Linked DNA regions of Homo sapiens: region 1 is linked to region 2. Evidence: fine-mapped expression QTL. A gene starts in region 2. The other region holds a variant in brackets. All regions are shown on one strand. Distances are from middle to middle. Region 1 overlaps BSDC1 (BSD domain containing 1). Region 2 holds the start of BSDC1 (BSD domain containing 1).

Evidence for each region. PIP is the estimated chance that this variant, and not a neighbour inherited with it, causes the effect.
Region 1: its variant is fine-mapped to the expression of BSDC1 in tibial nerve (GTEx, PIP above 0.99). The same link has a PIP of 0.9 or more in thyroid and whole blood.

Annotation. Positions count from the first base shown.
Region 1 is chr1:32,365,224-32,368,130 of GRCh38, reverse strand. It overlaps BSDC1 (BSD domain containing 1), which reads left to right. Exons shown (of 11, transcript NM_018045.8): 11 at 1,477-2,907. The coding sequence ends at 1,509. Among named protein-coding and RNA genes, the nearest start is that of TSSK3, 4.1 kb to the right of the region's middle. The variant T/C (reference allele first, on the strand shown) is at 1,440.
Region 2 is chr1:32,392,867-32,395,773 of GRCh38, reverse strand. It overlaps BSDC1 (BSD domain containing 1), which reads left to right and starts at 1,333. Exons shown (of 11, transcript NM_018045.8): 1 at 1,333-1,370; 2 at 1,634-1,694. The coding sequence starts at 1,360. RefSeq lists enhancers at 1-200, 948-1,027, 899-1,594, 1,318-1,607, 1,595-2,292.

The DNA of each region.
Region 1 (2,907 bases), 28 kb after region 2:
GGAGGCCAAGGTGGGAGGATTGCTTGAGGCGAGGAGTTCAAGACCAGCCTGGCCAATATAGTGAGACCCCATTTCTGTTTTTGAAAAAAAAAAAAAAAGGAAAAAAGAAAACAGACATCAAACCCTGCCTGACCTTCTGAGTTGTGGTCCTCAGGTATGAGGCCTGAGTATATACTTGGCCTTGGAGACAAAAGACCAGTGTGATCAAGGGCAAGGGCAAGTTACTTAACCTGAGCCCCTGGTTCCTCATCTAAAACATGGAATTGATCATTATAAGACCTGGCTATAAGCTGTAATGAGGTGATCCATGTAGACACCTTAGGGCTATTGCCTGAGACATGGTGACCAGCACTCAGGAGACATTAGTGATAAACCCCACAAAACCCATTCCAGTTATTAAGCTCAAGGAGGCCTTAGTACTGTTATTCTTCACTACCTCTCAGAATCAAAAGTGGCTCATTTAGATTGAGAGGCTGGAACAGTCCAAAGCTCTCCCAGCTAATAAGTGACAGGACTGAGGCTGCAACCCAGACATCTGATTCATGTCAGCGTTAGTTCCACTGTCACATAAGAACCACATGAGTCCTTCCATCATGTAACTTATGAGCCTGTTAGAAAGAGGTGGACAGATTAGAGAGACATGTGAAGGGCCTCCTTTTTCATGATGGGAAACTGAAGCCTTGGGGGAGTATTTTACCTACTCAGGAGTATTTTGCACTTGTGACTACCTCACTATACCCAGGACAGAGAAAGCCCATAGTGCCCTGTCAGGCCACAGGGGCTTGCTGGCTTTTTGTGTCTTTGCAGCCCCCTTTAAAACCTGACGTGCAGTACACGTGAGCATTCTAGAACCTGCTATACCAGGGCTTAGCCGACAGCAGGCCAAGAGTAGGAACAAAGCAAGAAAACGTTCCGTGGGGAGACTTGAGCTGGGAATTAGGGTGTTGGTGCCCCTAGTGAAGACCTAGTGGGCATCTGTAGGCCACTGCCACCTCTGCTTTTGGCCACAGTGCCACTCAGGCAGTGGCCTCCATTCACCCAAAGACTAAGTAACTTGCCCTTGATTACACTGGTCTTTTGTGTCCAGGGCCAAGTATCTGCTCAGGCCTCCTGAGTTCTCTGCTTCTCAGAGCCATGGCATTATCTGCTCAGCAGGAGGCAAGTTCTCCTTAAAGGACTGAGGCTGACTTGGTTCCTGTAGGCAGCCATCACCTTGTGGTGTCTGGTGTTGGTTGGGGGAAGTGTTTCCTTTAGGTCTGAGGTAATCAGAGCATCAGGCCCACCCCTCAGGCAGAGGGCAGCTCTGCCCCTCAGACACATTCCTTAAGACTAGGGGTTCACTCTCAGTGGGACCTCAGAGTATGGCCTGGGGTAGGGGATGGGAGGTGGCTCTGCTCAGCAAGTGGAGGTTAGGTCTGGGCCTGACTCAGGAGTAACTA[T/C]GTGTTTGTGATTTCCATTACCCCCTCCCATTTGCAGCTGGAAGATGTAGAGTGGGAGGACTGGGAGTGAGGGAGCCAGAGGGAGCAGCTCCCCCACCCATGGCATCTCTCGCCTCCCTCGCTCGTCTCAGCCCAGCCCTGGAAGACTGAGAATGTTCCCCCAAATCTCCTCTGCCAACCAGAGCTCTGGGCACAGATTCTGGTGGCTCCCTGCTGGCCCTCTTGGGCCTCTGCTCACACCTGGGAAGGGGCTCTCTAAATCCCGGCCAGAAACTCTGACTTGTGCCAACAATAGGATGACCCAAGGGAGAGGAAACCTATCCTCCTCACCAGAAGAGCCTGTGTTTTTCTGCTGAACACCCACTGTTCCTGAGGACTCCTGCTGGGAAGTCCCAAGGGATAGTTCTAGCCCTTCTGCCTGTGTAGACAGAAGCTAAACCACCAGTCTCTCTCGGAGGAAGCTGAGACAACATACTCTGTCCATACATAAGCAGGCAGGGAGGGCCATGCCACCTACCCTTGGCTAAACAGGGACAGTGAACACATTTTGGTTCCTATCCCAGTGGGTAAGAGGCACTTATCTCTGGGAAATTTGCCTCTCTTGGGACTCTCCCCCTCCCAGGCATTTTCCATTCCTGGAAAGGCTCCTTTGGGGTTCAGAATCCAGAGACCAAACCCTGACCCACCTCCTTCCTTTCCTCCAGCCCACGCTGGTCTGTCCCCATGCCTTCCCAGGGCTTCTTCATGTCGGATGCACCCAAGTCCTTAGCCCAGCTGTGCCACCTGCAGGAGTTCGCTCTTGCGTTTCTTCCCCTCCCCAAGAAGGGAGGGGGCTACTTCAGGCCCTTCTGTGTGTTGCCTGGCAGGATACCTTGTCCAACCAGCTACCCACCTCAACTCCCCTGTAGTTTAGGACACAAAACAGCTACCAGCGGTACAGAGCGGTGATCAAAGCCGAGTACTTACAACTCTGGTAAGCCTAGCTTCTCCGCCTCAGCCCTTCTGCTTCTGGAAGGGCTATCCTGGGGGTGAACTTGAAACTCTCATCAGGCTTCTGCAAAAGCTCTTCTTCCTGAAGACAGACCCAGCCTTTGTGCTCTCACCCTCCACTCTGGTAAAGCTGCACCTCTGGGGGAATGAGGGGCTGCAGGAATCTCTGGAGAGCCTGGTGCTTCACGATGCTGCTCTGGTGATTCTTGTACCTAATCTGGTGTGCTCACCAATGAGTGAAAGGGATCGTGGGTCAGGGACACCGAGAGAGTGAGGTCACTTCCACTTCAAACCTTCAGTGAGGGGGTGGGATGGAGAGAATGCTGAATCTTTTTTTTGACGGGATGGGGTTTTTCTCTTTGTAATTATTTCTTTAGTTTAATTAACCTTTTGGTTGTTTGTGCAATATTATATATTTTAAATTATAATGCATCTCCCCAGAGTATTTTGTAGCTGGGAAAAGAAAAAAGGAAAAAAA
Region 2 (2,907 bases):
CGGGCATGGTGGTGCACAACTGTAATCCCAGATACTCGGGAGGCTGAGGCAGGAGAATCGCTTGAACCCGGGAGGCAGAGGTTGCAGCGAGCTGAGATTGCACCACTACACTCCAGCCCGGGCAACAGAGCAAGACTCTGACTCAAAATAAATAAATAAATAAAATAGATGTTTCCGTCTTCCACAGGGAGGACCAAAAATAAATAAATAAATAAAATAGATGTGTCCGTCTTCCACAGGGAGGACGTGGGATGGTGGCGGAGCTGGCTGCAGCAGAGCTACAAATAAATATAAAATAAATAAAATTAAATAAAATTAAATAAATAAAAGAAAGTTATTTCAAAGGATTGTCTGAGAGGCAAAAACCTAACTGCAGTGAGTTCAAGAGAGAATGGGAGGAGAGGGGAGTTGCAGACTGTGAGTAGGCAACGCTTTTGCTGTAAAGGGGAGTAGGGAAACGGTGAGGGATATAGAGAGGGCTGGTTTTTGTTTGCCTTTGAGATGGGAGAAACAGCAGTACGGATGATGACAAGGATAAATGCAGTCATCAGAGGGAAAAGAGATGAAGGGGGGATTACTAGATCTATGTCCTTAAGCAAACAAGAGGCGATGGGATCTACCGCACACGTGGAGGGGCTGACCTTAATTAAAGTCCAAAGTATGTGGGCTGTGGAATCTCCCTTCCAATCGCAGTAGAACTCAATCCAGGCGGTCTCCGGATTTCTCCAGACCACCTCCACCTGGCGTTGTTCTGAGCTGGGCCACCGAAAGTTGAGATTACTGAATGTGTGTGTCTCCCATTAACCCGTAAGCCCTCCAAAGGCTGCATCTAAGTCGCCTCTGAATTATTCACATTCCTCCAAACTCTGGGCCACAGCCCCGCAATATGGGCTTATTGAATTAGCCCAAAGAGACACAAAGCAGCCTCTACGCAGCTGGTTTCACAAAGGGGGGCGGTCCTAACCCTGCGCTCTGGGATCCTGACGTTCGAGCTATCTCTCCTCCTCCCCTCTGCTCCCAGCTCTCCGCAGTCCAGCTTGTCGGCTGATCATCGTCCATAGAGGCCACCGTACCCGACGTTTGCGGACAGTGACAAAGAGTCAAGCTTGGTGGAGCCTGAGGACAGGACTGAATGACGATTGAACTGAGAGTTCAGGGGCGGAGTTTGAGGGCGAACTCGGGACAGAGACTGGATAGAGTTCAGGGAGGCGGGACCTAATGATGGCGCAGGGAGGGGATTGGGCTGAGGGCGGTGCCGGCGCGAGGATTGGGCCGAGCGCCTCGGGGGCGGTCCTTGAGGGGGCGGTGCCGTGTCGGAAGTCAAAGGTCAGTAAATAGTGGTGATGTCATGCAGGCAAGATGGCGGAAGGGTGAGCTTGTCGTTTTGCTCCTAGGCGTTGGGGCCTGAATTCTCCCAGGGTTGGGGTGCTGGGCGAGAGTCCCGGTGGGGAACGTGAGATCAGCGGGGGCGTGGACTGATCTGAAAGGGCAGAGTGGAGTCGCATTGTGAGGGGGTGGGCAAGCGGTCTGCGAAGCCTCGGCCCGCAGGGTACATCTGAGCGGGGAACAAACCGGATCCTTGGGCGGGCAGGAATCGCACCGCGGTGCTGCCAGATGTGTCTGTCTTCCACAGGGAGGACGTGGGATGGTGGCGGAGCTGGCTGCAGCAGAGCTACCAAGCAGTCAAAGAGAAGGTAAGCCGGGCCCGTGCCCTTCTTCCCTCAGCAGGGCCCTGCGCCGCCTCAATGCAACCTGGTCCAACCAGCCCCGCCCAACTTTTGCGGGCGCTAAGTCTCAAGGATGAGGCTGACCTGGGCCTTTCTTTTAGCCTCTACCGGTCCACGGGAAGACAGACCTCGACGCAAACCAGTGTGATACTAGCCACAGTGAAATAAAGATGGTTTTAAAGGCTGGAGTTAACGAACGTTTTGTAGGAATCCATAGGAAGGAGCAATTTATTCCAGCTCAGGAAATTCAGTTTCTTCGTGAAAGAGAGAGCATTTGATACAGGTCTTGAAGGAAAAGATTCTAGCAGTAAAAAAACTTACTCGTATAGTCATTCAAATATTAGAGTATATGCGACAACCAGCACTCTGATAGGTCTTGAGGATACAGACTTCAGCCAAACAGATGTAATCCTGGGCCTTACAAAGCTCACAGTCTAGTGGAGAGACAGCCATTAACCGAGTAGCCAAACAAATAGTTGTTTAGTTACCGTTGTGGTAAGTTCTGTGAAAGGAAAGTACAGGGGCACCTTGTCTGTTCTGGTTAGTCAGTAACTCACCAGGGAAGGCCCCTGTGGAGAAGGAACCTCATCAAGGGCAACCCTGCCTAGACAGGATGAAAAGCAAGAACCCAAGCCAGAGATGAGCATGAGCCATACACACTGGTGCCTGATGAGTTCTAAGTAGGGGCTATGCAACGGGCAGTAGAGAGAGAGAGATTAATCACCAGAGAGTGGAAGGCCTTCTTGCTGAACAATCTCTGTGGGATGAGTGATATTTGGCTGTGCCAGTGGGTAATTTGCCAATGTGTATTCCTGTTTCATTTCATGCTTATTTGTCAAAATCAGCCCAACTGAATTGTGGGAAAAGTTGATTACTATTTACCTCAAGCAATTGGGATGAGTCCTGCTTCAGGGCCAACTCCAGGAAGCTTCTGACCTCACCTAAATAAGTCCTCTACTCTGGGAGTATTTTTGTTTTGTTTTGAGACAGAGTCTCACTCTGTCACCTAGGCTGGAGTGCACAGGTGCGGTCTCAGCTCGCTGCAACCTCTGCCTCCCAGATTGAAGTGATTCTTGTGCCTCAGCCTCCCGAGTAGCTGGGATTACAGGCATGTGCCACTACTCCTGGCTAATTTTTGTATTTTTAGTAGAGACAGGGTTTCACCATGTTGGCCAGACTG